Linked DNA regions of Homo sapiens: region 1 is linked to region 2. Evidence: fine-mapped expression QTL. A gene starts in region 2. The other region holds a variant in brackets. All regions are shown on one strand. Distances are from middle to middle.

Region 1 (9,197 bases), 25 kb after region 2:
ATGAAGATATTTGTATCCCATGTGAGTGCTCAGCAATGAGTGACTCCAGCAGAGGAAGATTTTAATAACCAAGTGGATAGGATTACCTGTTCTGTGGACACCATTCAGCCTTTTTCCCCAGCCACCCCTTTCATCGCCCCAACGGGCCCATGAAGAAAGTTTCCATGGTGGCAGGGATGGAGGTTACACATGGGCTCAGCAACATGGACTTCCACTCACCAAGGCTGACCTGGCTGTGGCCACTGCTGAGTGCCCAATTGACCAGCAGCAGAGACCAACACTGAGCTCTCAATATGGCTCCATTCCTCAGGGTGATCAGCCAGCTACCTGGTGGCAGGTTGATTATATTGTACCTCTTCCATCATAGAAAGAGCAGAGGTTTGTCCTCACTGGAATAGACACTTAGTCTGGATATGGGTTTGCCTATACTGCATGCAATGCTTCTGCCAAGACTACCATCTGTGGACTAACTGAATGCCTTATCCACCATCACAATATGCCACACAGCATTGCCTCTGACCAAGGCACTCACTTTACAGCTAAAGAAGTGTGACAGTGGGCTCATGCTCATGGAATTCACTGGACTTAGCATGCTACTCAACATCCTGAAGCAGCTGGATTGATAGAATATTAGAATGGCCTTTTGAAGTCACAATTACAATGCCAACTAGGTGACAATACTTTGCAGGGCTAGGGCAAAGTTCTCTAGAAGGCCATGTATGCTCTGAATCAGTGTCCAATATATGGTTCTGTTACCCCCATAGCCAGGATTCACAGGTCCAGGAATCAAGAGCTGGAAGTGGAAGTGGCACCACTCACCATCACCTCTAGTTATCCACTAGCAAAAGTTTTGCTTCCTGTTCCCATAACCTCACGTTCTGCAGACCTAAAGGTCTTAGTTCCAGAGGGAGGAACGCTGCCACCAGGAGACACAACAACAATTCCATTAAACTAGAAGTTAAGATTTCCATCTGAACACTTTGGGGTCCTCTTACCTTTAAGTCAACAGACTAAGAAGGGAGTTATAGTGTTGGCTGGGGTTATTGATCCAGACTATCAAGATGAAATCAGTCTACTACTCCACAACGGAGGTAAGGAAAGAATATGCACGGAATACAGGTGATCCATTAGGGTGTCTCTTAGTATTACCATGCCCTGTGATTAAGGTCAATGGGAAAGTACAACAGCCCAATCCAGGCAGAACTACAAATGGTCCAGACCCCTCAGGAAGGAAGGTTTGGGTCACTCCACCAGGAAAAAAAACATGACCTGCTGAGGTGCTTGCTGAAGGTAAAGGGAATACAGAATGGGCAGTAGGAGAAGGTAGTCATAAATACCAGCTATGACCACTTGACCAGCTGCAGAAATGAGGACTGTAACTGTCATGAGTATTTCCTCCTTCTTTTGTTAAAAACATGTTTGTGCATGTATACACTTGTACTGAGAAATTATCCTCATTTTATTTCCTTTTCCTTTATCATGTGACATAAGATTAATTGACTTCATATCAGCATTTAAGTATTGTTAACTTTATGTAATAGTATTTGGATGGGGGTATTGGTGCATTTCCGGTTGTACGAAAGATAGTTGTATTATTTTAAGTGTAATTATGACCTTATTATTGTCTTTATTTGAAGATTATGTATGATCTCAGGAGATATATATGGGTTCAAGTTGACAAGGGGTGGAGTTGTGATAGTTAATACTGAGTGTCAACTTGACTGGATTGAAGGATACAAAGTATTGATCCTGGGTGTGTCTGTGAGGGTGTTGCCAGTAGAGATTAACATTTGAGTCAGTGGGCTGGGGAAAGCAGATCCACCCTTAATCTGGTGGGCACAATCTAATCAGCTGCCAGCAAATATAAAGGAAGCAGAAAAATGTGAAAAGGAGAGACTGGCCCAGCCTCCCAGCCTACATCTTTCTCCCATGCTGGATGGTTCCTGCCCTCTATCATCAGACTCAAAATTCTTCAGTTTTGGGACTTGGACTAGCTCTCCTGGCTCCTCAGCTTGCAGACAGCCTATTGTGACACCTTGTGATTGTGTAAGTTAATACTTAACAAATTCCCCTTTATATGTATATATATAATATATGTACATGTGTATATATAGGGGAGTGCACAGTATATTGTTATATGTGTTCTATTTTATCTTATTGTTCATCTCTTGCAGTGTCTAATTTATAAATCAATTATTTTCAGAGGTATGTATGTATCAGAGAAAACATAGTATATACAGCATTTGGTATTATCTGTGATTTTAGCCATCCACTGGTGGTCTTGGAAATAATTGCCCCATCCTCAGGTAAGGGAGTGCTACAAAGATGTGGACCAGGTGATGAGAACAAACGAGAGAGTGAGGGACACAGAAACCAGCATAACAAGAAGATTTTAGGAGAGGAATTAGTGTTTCTACAGTCTGCTAAGGACCAGAACCTTGGAAGAAGGGCCCAGTGTGAGACCTACAGAAACAGCTACTGACACAGAGACAATGGTGTAGCAAGGAGAGGACAGGGAAGAAATAACTCATCTTTTCTTTTCTCACATGCTCCAATTTCATGTTAATGCCTTCCAATGGCCTAACTCAACCGGAAGCTAACTAACCAGCAAGGTTCTGGAGCATGCTAACGAATCTGCATGAGTCAGCCTCTGGCAATATAGAGCCAGGAGAGGACAGAGAATGGATTTTGGAGAGACAAATGGAGAATAACCATTACATTACTACTATTATTCACAAATAGAATTATCTGAGAACTCTTTCTGAAAACATCTTTTTCATGCACAGTTTCAACTGGAAGTAAAAACTTACTGGGTTTTGTAAACTTAAGCATCCAAGATTTTAAAGAATCATTTCTCAGAGCCCTTTGGCTGGAACATTCCTAGTAGCATTTAGGAAGGATTTCCAGAAGTCTTGGGAGGCTTTGCAAGCCAAAATCTGGAAGAATTTGAGAGTATGCTTTTATTGACTTCCTTTGGGCATCCCCAGGTCTCTCATCATTTGGTGGTTTCCTGTGTCAGCACCAGTCTTACTATGCCTGGTTAGTCACTTGCTGATTGTTTTCAAGGAAGCCAGCCAGGCTTCAACAAAGGGTGACTACCTCAAAACAAATCAGCTGCACAGCAATAGGAACTCCTACTAATGGCTTCCCTTGAATTCACAAACTGTGTAGATTTTAGAATGAAGTAACATTTTCTCTTTCCAACTTTGCCATCCCTGTCTCTTCCTCCTGAACCTGAACTAACCCACAGACAAAAAAATGGAAGAGGACAGTGGTGGAGAAGCATGCTCTCTTTCCTGAAGCCTTAGATTAAAATTATACTCAAGGCCGGTTGTCATGGCTCATGCCTGCAATCTCAGTGCTTTAGGAGACTGAGCTGGGAGGATAACTTGCGACCAAGAGCTCAGGATCAGGTTGGGCAACATAGCAATATTCTGTCTCTGCAATAAATAAATAAATCAAATTATCTGATTGTGGTGGCACGTTCCTGTAGTCCCAGCTACTGAGGAAGCTGAGGTGGGAGAATTGCATGAGCCTGGGAGTTCAAGGCCACAGTAAGTTAAAATTGTGCCACTGCAATCCAGCCTGAGCAACAAAGGAAGACTTTAACTCTAAAAAAAAATTATAGCCAATATCAGAGTCTTGAATATTCACTGTAAACATCAGCACAAACAAAAGCCCGATTTCTAAATCTCATAGAAACTAAGAGTTTGAAAACTTGAGAGGACTGATATAAAGTTGGAAGTCAGTGTTTCAAAGGAGAGAGACAGAGTTAGCTATAGGAAAACAGAAAATTAGGAGTGGAAAGCAAAGAAGAGTCTTGTAAGTAACATATATAGCTGAACAATAAATACAAGTGAAATAGATTGACTTCTAGAATGGCAGTGTGGGAAACTCTGCTGAGCCACTCCTCAGTGAAACTGGTGAAAATTGTGTGTAAAGAAACAACCACTTAAATTCTCTGGAAATGGTCCTAAGGGCAAATGGTAAATAAAGAAATACCTATTAGAGGAAATTATGAATATCTGTCAAGAGAGGTGAGTCTGTGACATTTGAACTGAAACTACTACTTTCCTTGCCCCTCCCAGCTCAGTGAGGCAGAGACTCTACTCCAGACGCTGCAGCCAAGAATATGACTCTTTATATTCCTTAGGTGTCAGCTGCAGGGCTTTCATTGCAATAGGACATAACTTGAGCTTTTTTGGTCCTGCCCGTAGCTGTCTGTTGCTAAGGCTAAGTCTTAGGTGAATACAACTGGGAGGAGGAAGCTTCCTTCTCCCACCCAACACTTTCTTGTAAAAAGGAAGTTCTACCTTGGGTGTGGTGCATTGAGAATGAAACTACCTTTGCAAAAATTATGACAGTGAGAGAAATGTAACCTAGCTGACACTGCCATACTTCTAACTTAACAAGCTAACTGTGTTTGCTCATTCCTGGGTGTAGGCGAAGCTAATTGTGGAAGGAATTTAGCTTATAGTTTAACTTTAAATAAAGGATAATAGTCTCCCCCAAAAACTGACCCCCTCTGGGGACTGAAACCACCTTTGTAGGACTAATGAAAGGCCAAAAGCTTAGGATTATGAGTGGGGAATGAATTCTGGTAAGATGTAGATGTAGTTAAATGATAACCAGCCACAGTTCCGAAGATGACAAGATTTGTAAGTTCTTTAATTGCTCTTATAGATACCAACGGTATTGTCAAAACCCAATATTGGTCTTTGAGGTATTTTTCAGACTTTTGCACTTTGGCTGACCAGTTGATGCCACCTGGATCTGTGACTCATACCAG[G/A]GAACTGACTTAACCAATCCTGTGACCCCCTACCCTGAAACTGACTCAGCACATGAAGAACATTTTGGATACACCTATGATTTCATCCTGAACCAATCAGCAGGACCTAGTCCCTAACCCCCTGCCTGCCAAATTATCCTTAGCCTCCGAGCTTTCAATACTTAAACTCTTTCTTTGCTGCAGTATCTGCTATTTTCAGGGAATTGGCTTTTCTGGGCAGTGGGTAAGATGAACCAATTGGGCTGTTAACAGGAATACTGGAGCCTTGGGAGCCTTTTCCTTGGCCTTTGAAGTAAAGTTTCCACACCATGAGTGGCAAGCTGAAAGACCTGCAAACTCCTCTCTCACCCCATCCACCAAGCATTCAGCAATTAGAGCCAGGGTATTACTCAGAGAGAAGCTTGTCATTGTTTCCACCCCCAACTCCGTGCTCTAGCTCAGAAATTTTGCCTAGGGAGAGAATCAGGCCATAAAGCATGCAACTCTTTATCTCTTCCCAAGGGATCTTACTTTATTCCAAACAAAGTGTAGATAATTTTAAACTTAAGGGCACTCTCAAGAACAGTAGAAGTTGTGGTGAAAAGCAATTGAGAGGAAATTTTGGGACCAAATGAAGATATAGCCTAGACTGTAGGCCAGCTAGTTTGTAAGAGAGAACTGGGAAATAAGATAGCTGACAGGAGCTCTCTTGGAGTTAATACAAATAGCAAACACTGATCTCAGAAACTTTCCCATATAAAGTGTCACAATATTATTAGATTTATTTGTATATCTTTTTTTTTTTTTTTTTTTTGAGACAGAGTCTCACTGTGTCTCCCAGGCTGGAGTGCAATGGCACAATCTCAGCTCACTGCAACCTCTGCCTCATGGGTTCAAGCGATTCTCCTGCCTCAGCCTCCTGAGTAGCTGGGATTACAGGCACCTGCCACCATGCCCAGCTAATTTTTGTATTTTTAGTAGAGACGGGGTTTCACCGTGTTGGCCAGGCTCGTCCCAAACTCCTGACCTCAGATGATCCTCCCGCCTTGGCCTCCCAAAGTGCTGGGATTACAGGCATGAGCCACCATGCCCGGCCAATTGGATTTATTTGTAAAGAAAAAATTATGTTCCAGGGCACTGTTGGAAACAATTAAGCAATAGGCCAGAAATTAGTAGAGTTTAACAGCTAGGTGTAATCAGCGAAAGGGTGGGAGAGAATCTTACCAGTACCACTACTATCCCAGGATAATTGTTAGATATACCCAGAACTGTGCCTCACTGATCAGAGAGCATCAGAGGCTTACCATGATGTGTATGTTGAAAAGTGAGGGAATGGAAGCCAGGGAATAGACTTCAACTAAAATAACTCAGCACTCACTAAACAAATAAACAAGAAAATAATAATCGCAATCCTAGAGGGGGGCGGGGTACCAGTTTCCAGAGTTACTAAGATATATTATCTAAAATGTCCAGTTTCTAACAACAAATTATGAGCATGCAAAAGAATGGAAAAGTATAAATTGTATACTGGATGAAATACATGCAACAGAAACTTCTTATCAGGGTAAATTAAACAATTAAATCAAAAAGCAGAGATTATCAGACTTGATTTAAAAACATGCTTTAACTATATGTTGTCTTCAGGATAAACTTTATATTCAAAGACATAAATAGATTGAAAATAAAAGGATTTAAAAATATCAAAGACCAGGTGCAGTGGCTCATGCCTGTAATTCCAGCACTTTGGAGGCTGAGGTGGGCAGATCACTTGAGGCCAGGAATTTGACACCAGCTTGACCAACTTGGTGAAATCCCATCTGTACTAAAAGTACAAAAATTAGCCAGGCATCGTGGCACACACCTGCAGTCTCAGCTATTTAGGGAGCTGGGGCATGAGAATCACTTGAACCTGGGAGGTGGAGGTTGCAGTGAGTTGAGATGGTGCCACTGCACTCCAAACTGTGTGACTGAGTGAGATCCTATCTAAAAAAAAAAAAAAAAATTCAAGCAAACAACAACCACAAGAAAGCTGGCGTGGCTATACTAATAACTAAGTTAAACAGTTTTGCAGGATACAAAATCACTCTGCAAGAATAATTTGTATGTCTATACACTTACAATAAACAATATGAAAATAAGTTAAGTAAACAATTTCATTCATATTAGCATCAGAAAGAATAAAATACCCACAGGAGCAAATTTAACAAAATAAACGCAAAATTTATACCCTGAATACTACAAAATATTGTTAAAAGAAATTACAGAAGATTAAATAAGTGAAAAAACATACCATGGTCATGGATAGTAAGACTTAATATTGTTAAAATGGCAATATGTTGATCTACAGATTCAACATAATTTTTATTGGAAACCCAGCTGACTTTGCTGACATTGATGGCTGACTCTAAACTTAATGCGAAATTGCAAGGAACTCAGAATACCAAAACAAACCTGAAAATAATAAATAAGGAGAGCTTATATGTCTTGGTTTCAAAACCTACTACAAAGCAATTGTAATAATAACAGAGTGATACTGGCACAAGACAAACATTTTTATTTATTTGCTTAGGTGCCATAGCAGAATATCACAGACTGGATGGCTTAAGCAACAGAAATGTATTCTCTCACAGGTCTTGAGGCTGAAAGTCCAAGATCAAGGTGTCATCAGGAATGGTTTCTGGTATGAACTTTCTTCCTGAGTTGCAGATGGCTGCCTTTTCACTGTCTTCTCCTATGTGAGCATGCACTTGTGGTGTTTCTTTCTCTTGTTCTAAGGATACCCGTCCTATTGGGTTCAGGTCCTACTTTTATGACCTCATTTAATCTTCATTACCTTCTTAAAGGCTGTATCTCCAAATACAGATGGGTTAGGGCTTCAATACATGTATATGGGGGGCAGGAAACACAATTCAGTCCATAACACAATGCACAGAATTGAGAATCTAGAACTAAACCCATATCTCCATGGCCAACTCATTTTGTGCACAGGGTCCTAAAACATTAATGGGGAAAGAATAATCCCCACAAATTGTGCTGGGACAATTGGATAGCCACAGGCAAAAGAATGAAGCTAAACCCTTACCTCATACCATACACAAAAATTAACTCAAAATGGATCGAAGTCCTAAAAACTGAATGTTCTTAGAAGAAAACATAGAGGTAAAATCTTCATGATTTTGGATTTTCTAAAGAATTCTATAATATGATATTCAAATTAAAAGCAACAAAAACATTGAGAACTTGCAAATCATATATTTGATAAGAGTCTTACAGCTACAGTATAGAAAGAGCCCTTGCTACTCAATAATAAAAAAGTGATGCAATTAAAGAAAGAGCAAAGGATTTAAATAGACATTTCTCTAAAGAAGATTTAAAAATCACTAATAGGCACTTGAAAAGATGCTCAATATTATTAGTAATGAGGGAAATTTAAATCAAAACAACAATGAGGTATCATTTCACACATACTAGATTGGTTATAATAAAAAGGACAGATAATAACAAGTGTTGCCAAGGATGTGACAGTTCTTCAGAAGGTTAAGTTATCATATGATCCAGAAATTCTATCCTTTGATAACATATTCAAGGGAGTTTAAAAGATATGTTCGCACAAAAACTTGTATGCCCATGCTCATAGGATCACTATTCATAACTAAAAAGTGGAAACAACCCAAATATCCATCAACTGATGAATGAATAAACAGAATATCTTATATGTATACAATGGAATAATATTTACCCATAAAACCTAATGATATACCGCCACACACTACAACAAGAATGAACCTTGAAAACATTATACTAAGGAAAATAAGCTAGGTACAAACTGACAAATATTTTATAATTCTACTTGTATGAAGTATTTAGATTAGTAAAATTCATAGAGGCCAAAAGTAGAACAGTGGGGTGAGGAGGAAAGGAGAGTTATGATTTAGTGGGTACAGAGTTTCTGTTTGAAACAACGAAAAAGTTCTGGAGATGGATAGTGGTGAAGGTTGCACAACAGTGTGAATGTAGTTAATGCCACTGAGCTGTACACTTAAGGAAAAGTGTTAAAATGGTAAATTTTATGCACGTATATTTTATCACAACTGCACACATTGCAGGTGAGATAATATTTTGTGATGGGGTTTTAATGTGGAGGGAGGGTAAAAAGACACATATGGTGGTAATGTATCTATAGTCTACCTAAAGTAGTGAAATACTTATTCTACGTAGACTGTGCAAAACTAGCATGCTATCTTATAAGCCCTAGTGCAATTGCTTAAAAGCTATACAAAATATATAATAAAAAACAATGGATAAACCTAAATCACTAGCTACCACTTCACAACACTAGAATGGTTGTAAGAAAAAAATAATAATAAGTGTTGGCAAAGATATGGTAGGTAATTTCTCAAAAAGTTAAACACAAAGTTACCATATAATC
Region 2 (9,197 bases):
GCCTGAGAAAAGAATGACCAACCTGATCTAACTTTCCCTCCTGATTTGGAGGGAATACAGCAAACAAGCAAGTTTCCTCGCTTTATCCTCACCTATCTGTTTAACTTCATTCCAGACTACATCTCAGAATCTTCCTATGAGACACCCGAAGGGAAGAAAGGCGCGCCAACGCGCCGGGTGAGCCCCTGCCGCTCCCTGCGTCTCTCCCCCGCTAGTTAAGGGCCCACACGCCGGTCGCGAGCCAACCTACCATTCATTTTGTTGTGGGATCTAGAGGGGCAGAGCAAGAGTAACTCAGTCAGTTCTTTCCCGTACCAAACTAGTAACTCCTCGTCTTTGGCAATCCTGCGGAGAGAGCGGTAGAACAGCTGTCCGTTTTTTATGTAGGCTTCAAGGTTCTGCTCTTCCTTATCTCTGGCCGATTGGACCAACCGCAGCCACATGAGACCTTCTGAGGAACCATTTGCTGCTGAGGTGTCTACCTGCGGTTTGAAATAAATGAAAGAAGACAAGAAGGAGAGGGGGAGAGGGACCCTCATGAGGGAATGAAATCAGAAGAATCAAGACCATTTCTTCTATGTTAGTCTTTTCCAAAAATTGTCTGAGACCACGCTTCCAAAAGTTTGGCCCAAGCTGGGACCTGTCCTCATGTTTGTAACCATTAGGCAAGATAACCATTCTTTGAAACACTGCATCAATCATATAGTTTATTTAAGTCACCGTTTTTATATATTGGTTGAATACTAAATGAGGAAATTTCTTCTTATAATTTAGTGTTAACCCCTTGAGAGTTTACTTCTAAGTTATTCCACATTACAAAGGTATGGAGAATTTTGTTTGTTTCAGAAATAAAGCAAGCTTAGATCTTAGAAATTATGCTATGGCAATCATGTTCCTAATCTTGGCTAGAACAATTAATAGATTTTCTTTGTAAAGAAGAATAGGAAATGAGAGGTCTGAATCTTCCAATTCAGACATATGGATTTGATGATGCTTTACTGTCAAAACCATAAACATTTTTATTTAAATACAAACTCTGGGCACTAGCTAATATTACCAAAGAAACTAATCTTTAGGGGATGAAGAAGCCTCCTCAAATGGAAGGCAGATGTACCCAATACTTGTCAAAGAACTTGCAGAAACTAGTTAGTATGCAAATAGCCTCCACCCCAGTGAAATCTCCCAGAGTTTAGGAAGTCGTGTTCATCACCAGGATAATCCAGAACTGAAGCACTGATTTAGATATTTCTAACATTCCAAATCAAATTTTGTCATTTATTCCAAAAAATCAGTTGACAATAATTTGAGTTTAATTTTCCTTTTCTAATTTTTGATGTGTGAAATGGGATTGCTTGCATTATTGCATTTTTCCACAGGCAAAACCTATCTCCACTTGTCATTATAATTATTTTTAGTCCATTTCCAACAGGACATTACCCTCATACACCTACACAGCTACAGTGGAGACTTACCCGAAAGATATACGGTACTGTTCTCTTGTCAGTAGACTTGAGAGCTATGAAAGCTATGCTGTCATATAGGGAAGTATGGCTCAGGACACAGGGACCAAATATAGCATTCTCAGGGATGTCGCAGGTGGTGTAAACGCTGGTAAAAATATCTGTCAGACATTGTTGGACAGCCTTGGCATCTCCATCCCAGATGCCTCGCTGGATGCCAGTATCCTCCATCACTGGAGATAGACACACAGCACAAGAAAGTGAGTTATGTTACTGCTTTTAACGCCATTAACCCAAGCAGAACTGTCCAAATACTAGGTAGATTTTCCTTGCACATGCCTGATTTTTGCATAGCTCTTATTTCAAAATTAAAGCAGATAAACATGGCATATTTTAAAGATGAAAACTAAGGGATACTTGTTAAAATAATTAGAATAGTGGGAGATCTGGAGCTGACTGCTTGGGAGAAAGAAAAGAAAGGGCTAGGAAAGACTAGATAATTTTTGCATTACCTTGATGTTGGATTGGGTAGGTTTTAGAGGTGAAGTTCCAGGCAGAATTATATATATATGTACACACACACACACACACACACACACACATATATATATATATACATATATATAATTTTTTAAACCAGCCTATAGACTTCCCTTACTGAAAGAAACTTCTAACCCTTGGGGGAAAGTGCCTGTCTGCCTATGTATTGAACTGGGTGCCCGGGAGCTGATTTTTTTCTTTTCTTCCAAGGAGGGGAACAGCGTTAGTGAGCAGGCGGAGACAGCGGAGCATGGCGAATGGATTTCAAGTGGAATGTCAGGGCCACTAATTCTGTGTCAGCTAACCTTTCTCTGCAGCCTACAAGAAGGGACGTATGTCTGCTCATTACCATAATCCAACACTGTTCCTCTGAGGCTTTAATTAAAAGCAGCAAGCAGAGGTAATTTTTTTTTCTGGACGTGCTTATTTATGGATGAGAGTGAATCCCGGTTACCTTGTTATACAAGGGGGTGGATTGAGTCACATGTGGCTCATGAAGTGAGCAGGTACAGGACAGGCCTAAAGTGTCCCCAGTCTGAAATACTGTGTGTAATGACTGGTAAATTTTCACTCCCCCTACCCCATATGACCCTTTTTGGGCAAGAGGGGGCAGCCCTGCTTGAGCACTCCTCAGTGGGCTCCCCAGCTGTTTAATCCGCAGCAATTTAGAAAGTAATGCCCCAATGCCCTTTATTAAGGTGTCATAAAGGGACATTTTCCTTCCTCTGGACACCCCATACAAGACTTATCACTAAAAAAAAAAAAAAAAAAAAAAAACAAAAAAAAAAAAACCCAAAAAAACCCAGGTATTTAAATTTTTAAACTAGCTTTGAACTAGCTGCATTGCTTAGTATTTCAGACTAATCAAAATATTCCTCCAAGTTTGTTGTTCCCTAATAATGTCACTGTTGGCAATTATTTATGTATGTTTTATATAATTAAAGTAGCAGGAAAGAGTAGATCTAATTCTTTTCCTGCAAAGCTGTTCATTATGGAATAATGTCAGTGACATCTATTTTTATTTTAATTTATATTAACCAGTTAACCTTACACGTGTGATTACAAGGTGTGCTTTTTTCCCCCCATTCCAGCTAACATAGCCTAAAACTTTGGTTAGCCTCATTTTCCATTCATCCTCTTGCATCCCCCAAATGTCAAGTGTTGGGCTGTATCTCCCAGACAGCAGAAATAAGGGAAAATATCCATAAAGTAGAAACTTTTTTATTCTGCATCATCTATCCCTGGTCATTTTTACCCCATACAAGGTAGACATCCTGATTTTTTCATTTCAAATTAAAATACATTTTAAAAACCCCATAACCTCTTATCTCCTTTTCAACGGAATCCTATTCTCCTCTTTTCAATTTCCTTCAATTCAGCGTTTTATTCCCCAATTTCTCTCTTCCTTTTAAAAATCTCTTTCACACAAGCATTTCATTGTGCCGGGAGGTCGCCCCGTCACTTCGGGCAACAGCAGGGACACAGTCATTAAAATGCAGTTCTACCTAACAATACGGCAAAAAGGTCCTCACTACGCCGCGCTAATAGCGGTCGGAGTCGCAGCGCCAGGCGCCACGAGCCTCAAGCCCATCACAATAACCGCTGGGCAAGAGCCTAGGAGCGCCCGCCCGCGTGCGGTCGCCTTTGCCACGCAACGTTTCACAGCTCCGTGCCCCGCTCTAGGCCCAGGTTCTTATCCGCCTGCCCTGGGAATATACCCCAGAGCCGGCGGGGCTTTCTGAAAGCCGGTCGCTGCTGCCCGCCACTGGCCCGTCCCTCTAGGCAGGCATTGTCTGGCGGCCGCGCGCTCCCCAGTCTCCGGCTTCTCCGGCAAAGTGCTCACCACCCGCTCCTCCTTTTGTACAATATTACTGGCAGTAGACAGCCCCTCAAGAATTATTTTTCTCTCTCTTCTGGATAATAAGGAGACGGAAGACAAAATGTTCTACTCTTTCCACCAAACTGTCTTCCTCCCATCCCCCTCCCACATCAATGCAAATAGACTTACCAGGAATAAGGTCAGTATAGAATCTCCCAAATAAGGCCACCTGGAACCGGGAAGATGCAATCGAGTGTTTCCTTTTGCCTATTGTATCAGTGTATTTCCATGTCAAGAGGTGTTGGTGTTGCCGCCTTTTAGGCTCTTCCTGAAGAGATAAGAGAGAGATGGAGAGATGGGGAGAAAAAGATTGGGGGGGTGGAGGGAGGGAGGGAGGGAGAGAGACGGAGAAACGGAGAGAGTTGTACAGATGGACCCGATGCAGTGACTGACTGGCACGCAGACACACACTTTTTGTTTGCTGCACATAATCTGCCCAATGACGCGTGACAGCCCACGTCCCCTCCCTTTAACTCTTTGCTGGGCCAGGCGCTCCCTCCGGCGCCGCCTGCCTCGCAGCTTTTTCCCCCGGCCTGCCCGCGCCCCGCAGATCCTGAGCGCCTACCCCGGGTGGCAACGCCTCTCAGAGAGCGTCCCGGCCCGCCTCCTCCTAAAGCTCGGGCCCTCTGGGACTGCTAGGAGGGGAAAATCGTTTCAGGATTGGAAAGGAAGGTACCAAAATGATTGGAGAGGGCCTTTCCCCGTTTCACTAGGCACTTGGAGAAGCTGTGACAGAGAGCTGGACACCCAGCGCGTGCGGACCCCGTGCGTATTTCCCCGGAGTCCGCGTTCCGTGAAAGGGAGAGGGGTGCGGTTAGCTCCAGGGATTCTCTAGCCCTGGAGCCACCGCTGATTTGCGCAGCTAGTTGCCTGGGGGTGATAAACGGGCGTCGTCTCTCTTCAGGAGCGCCAACACTACCAAGCTTCCCCCTGCAAAATTCAGAAAGGATGCGCTTTGGTGAGAACTTGGCTCAGCCTTCCCGTGGCTTGGGAGATGAGGTTGGAGTGAGAATGTCACCAGACCTCGGAAGGGGACATAACGGTACCTCCTAGTCCCAGGACACGGGTACGTGGGCGGAGGTGGGGTGTGGGAGGTTGGTGGGAAGAGCGCAGGTTACTGGACTCAAACAGTTCCTGTTTTTTTTTTGTTTGTTTTTGTTTTCGTGGGGTTTTTCCCCCCCTCTGCTTGGTGCGTTCTGCGCAGCCCCAGAGGGAGTCTATAATGGGTACTGTTGGCACTCTGAGGTCTTGGGGTTGGGGGGCAAGGGTGATTAAAAATAAAAATGATTACCAAGATGGGCTCCGGAAAGCTTTTCACATCCAGCGGGTGGTGGAGGAGGGGATGGAGTTGCCGAGGCCGTCTCGGGAGCCTCGTTTGTGCGCTAAGCCACTTAGAGGCGCTGACTTGCCCCTTTAGTGCAGCAGCTGATGCTAATGACTTGAGGTCTTTAACAGCCTGCAAGTTGACTCCTTCAACGGGGCTGCAACACCACGTCGCTGGGGAATCTCGGGCTTCTTTTTCACAGTTCAATTCTCTACTCCTAAAGGAAGAAAGGCCTTTGAGTGGTATAGACAGTTTCTCAACTCCTTCAGCCCCACACACACCACCACTACTTTGAAGTGGGCAATCTGTCAGCATTAGGATAAATCGGATTGTGTAGCTAGCTAAAGTGGAGGAGGCAGAACCACAACGTAAGGAGACAGCCTCGTTGTTGTTTTTCCTAGTGTTGAAATAATGTATTTGGGGAGTTGGCAAAGAGCAGCTTACCATGTTAGTTTGATCCTCTCCCAGCTTTGAGACCCTTCTCTGGAACTCAGTGGGGTATTGAGGCTTTGACAGCCTGGTGACTGCAGTCCCAGGAGGCCAGGGGAGGATTTTGCTGAGGAGAAACAAGTGCAAGGACTTTCCCATGAAGTTCATGTTCTTCCTTGTTCTCTCTCTCTCTCTCTCTCTCTCTCTCTCTGTGTGTGTGTGTGTGTGTGTGTGTGTATTTCCTTCTCTTTTCTGGTTAGTACCCCAGGCAAATTCCGAATTGCTGCCTAGAATTAAGCTGAAATTCACAGAAGGAAGGGCTGCAAAATCCCCATATATTCAGAGAAAATGGGGAATCCCTTAGTTTTCAGGTTAGCTACTGACTTTTCAAAGAAAGCTTCTTGAAGTGCAGTTTTATGTACTTTGGCTATGTGCAATTTTATCTACTTCGGCTAAGGTTGGCTCCTAATGACCAAGGCTCAGTGCAATGAGGGCTCTCTCACATGCCTGTATGTAAGAATCTGCAGCTATACTGAGCTACCAATTGTCTTCTGACTGATTGCTCCATTGAATACTAGATTCACTTCTCAGTCTCTCTCTCTCTCTACACACACACAAACACACACACACACACACACACAAAGTATGGACACATGGTCCCCTAATACTTCTTTAAAGAATGGGTGGAAGCATTAGAAATGTGAAAATAATGTCTCAAACATCTGGAAAATAAACCTCAGGTTTGAAGAATAGTGGCCAGAAACTTAAGTTAATTCAGAGTAGAAGAAAGAAGAAAAATAAAGAGCAGAAGAGGCACGGGTGTAAACAACTTCAAGTTAAGAAAGAAAAGTAGCCATAAGAGAGTCATGTGGTCCCTTAGAAACTAGACTGATAAATGCAATATGGTGTGTGAGGAGCAGTGTTTAAGAACATAATTTCATTAATCTGTCTAACAGAACACTCCTTAATGCTTTCTTTTGCTGTTATTTAGAGAATTGGAATTTTATCTTTCAGGAAAAGTCATCTGTCCATGCAAACCATTAAAAAATTATCTTACATATTGTAAATATGTAAGCCTCTACTCCAGAATGTGGACATTTAGAAAATAAACTCTAAATGGAAGGCATTTTTCTTGTGCCTGGCCTTTCTCTTATTAAATACAGAGACCATTTAAACTATATTTCTTTTGAGGTACTAAAACCTTGACTCCAGTTTGTATAAAATAATGTTTTTGGTACTTAAGTTGAGGGTGGAACAGCTTGACCTTTTTATGTCTTAAGCTAGAAAACAGCGACAATTTTATACATCTGAGAAGGGAGCAATTTATTGAGAATCTGGCCAACAGATGCTTCATTTCAGTTTCACTTTTTTGCCCTCTAATTAATTTTTTTCCTACTGCTTTCAGGTAGAGATCCTTAAATATAAGAATTTCTCACATTTTATGAATCTGACCTACCCTTTTTATTATGAGTTAAATAACTGACATAACAAAACAATATAAGTAAGATTAAGTCGAAATTCTTACTTGAAGAGTTTTCTAGTAATTTAAGTGGTACACATTTTGCTTGGTAATATAAATGTCCTAAATGACAATAATTAATAGGGGATAAAGAAAATCTACAAATTATTTTTATTTCTGTAGAAATTTATGGGCTAAAATGGTACATAAACTACTTTGAAATCACTCTGCATTAATACTTACTGGAATTCACTGATACTAAATGAAGGGTTGAGGCATTTATTCAGCCTCAGACAGTACTATAAAAGTGTACCTAGTCAATAGTTTTATGTAATTCATATGGAACAATGGGTTTATGCATATATTTGGAGCTCTCTTCCCTAGGATTTTATTTCCAATTAAGTAATTAGAAGAATGACAATGAAGAGTGGGTATGCTCACCTTGTTCCACTTTAGCAAGGCTCTTTGGAGTCCTGGCAAAAATACACATGTAGGAAACTGTAGTGTTATTTTGGAAGAGTGGGCTGGAGAGAGGTTGATAAATGACACCCCAGGTGGCTTTTATGACCTAAGTGAGAGGGTGGAGAAAGGGTAAGAAAGGGAATTTTAATTCTTAGGGAGTATTAGAATGGGAACACTCTTTCTCTTCCCAGGGTTCAAAAATGGAGCCCAAAATATTTCAACTTCTGTGATAAGAGGCAGGTAACATCTCCAAGAATAATTCACGTAAAGATTATTATCCCATGAGAATGAAAACACACTGATTTTCTTTTTCTATATCTTTCTAGGTCCTGGCTTACCCACCTCTAACTCTATTGCCAAAGCACTATGCCAGCAAAGGCTTGATTGTCAAAAGAGTATGGCAATTCATGGTGAAAGGGGGGGAAAAAACCCACACACTGGAAGATAAGAGGATGCCAATGGAGCAGACAGTGGCAGCTCCTTCCTAAGCTTATTAATTTCCCACAGGGAGGTCTCTGGAAGGGGCTGTGAGGGTTGAGGGAGGAAGAGAATAGATCTTCAAGGAGGAGTATTGTATTACCTAGCCTCACCATTCAGAATAAGGAACTTTTTAAGGGATAAACTTTACTGACTACTTGTACATGAAAGAGAAACAGAAATGATGGGCTGGTCAATTAAGAAAAACACCAGGCCTGTGCCAAAAATGTTGTTCAGAGGGTTGTTAACTCATTTTCTACCACTTTGCCTTTATCAAGAGAAAGATACATGGTGGGTTTTTAAAAAGACCCAGAGGGGTTTGTTTGTTTGTTTTACATTTTGGTGAGTCGAGAAGAGCCATGCTTGCTGAGTTGGGTAAAGGATGATGTGAGGGGGTGGGGTGTGGGAAGGGCTACTCGTTTTTTATAAGTATACATTGCAAACTCAGTTTAGGTCTGTTCCTCACCCTAAGTATTGTAGTTGGCTCACTGGGTATTACATGAGCAAATGTTTTCCAGGCTGGCCCTGGGAAAGCCAGAGACTCAGGGTTGGGTAATTTTGTAGCCTGTGAGGAAGGACTTCAGGCTCCCAACTGTAGGGATCATTACTTCTGACTCATACTTTTCTCTCTTGGGCTTTTCCTCGTAAATGATCCTGCTTTTAATCCTGCTGCTCCTGCAGCTACTACTACCACCATTATCATTACAATGATAATCTACCTTTCTCAAGTTTAAAACTTTCTCTCTTAGCCATTCCCAAGTTTTACTTACACTTGTGTTGGAGTTCAGCTGAGAATGGGATAGTCTTTGAAAGCTGTATGTTATTATCTTCCTCTCCTGGATCTGGGTTGTAGTGAACTGGCTTAATGGCCTCTGAGTATGACTTTTAGAAGGGCTAGCAAACCGAAGTGACATTGTGCACAACTACCAACAGATATGAAATCAGTGCCCCATACTCATCTGTGTGAGTGTGACCTCTGAACCAAATCCAATATCCACTATTTCAACCCCCTGGGTTCTCCCAAATGTTATACTCTTCCCCAGATGAGTGTGTAAAGATCTGGCAAGAAAAGGCTTGGATTTTTGTCAAATCTGTAGGTTCCAAAGTCCTTCCTAGACTCAGACACCACACCCTTTGAACGCATCTCAGTGTGAAGGGGGTTGACTG

Alleles and levels. Alleles are on the strand shown, and positions count from the first base shown. SD is a standard deviation of normalised expression in the study named.
With allele A in place of G in region 1, the expression in ovary of the gene that starts at base 4,428 in region 2 is lower (moderate effect, 0.60 SD a copy in GTEx).

Evidence for each region. PIP is the estimated chance that this variant, and not a neighbour inherited with it, causes the effect.
Region 1: its variant is fine-mapped to the expression of PRDM8-AS1 in ovary (GTEx, PIP 0.92).

What each region holds. Positions count from the first base shown.
Region 1 is chr4:80,167,430-80,176,626 of GRCh38, reverse strand. No RefSeq gene overlaps it. Among named protein-coding and RNA genes, the nearest start is that of PRDM8-AS1, 25 kb to the left of the region's middle. The variant G/A (reference allele first, on the strand shown) is at 4,790.
Region 2 is chr4:80,192,575-80,201,771 of GRCh38, reverse strand. It overlaps PRDM8-AS1 (PRDM8 antisense RNA 1), which reads left to right and starts at 4,428. Exons shown (of 6, transcript NR_183912.1): 1 at 4,428-4,644; 2 at 4,784-4,945. PRDM8 (PR/SET domain 8) reads right to left here and starts at 4,269. Exons shown (of 4, transcript NM_001099403.2): 1 at 4,009-4,269; 2 at 1,473-1,693; 3 at 251-482. The coding sequence starts at 1,691. RefSeq lists enhancers at 1-948, 4,426-5,041, 5,042-5,659.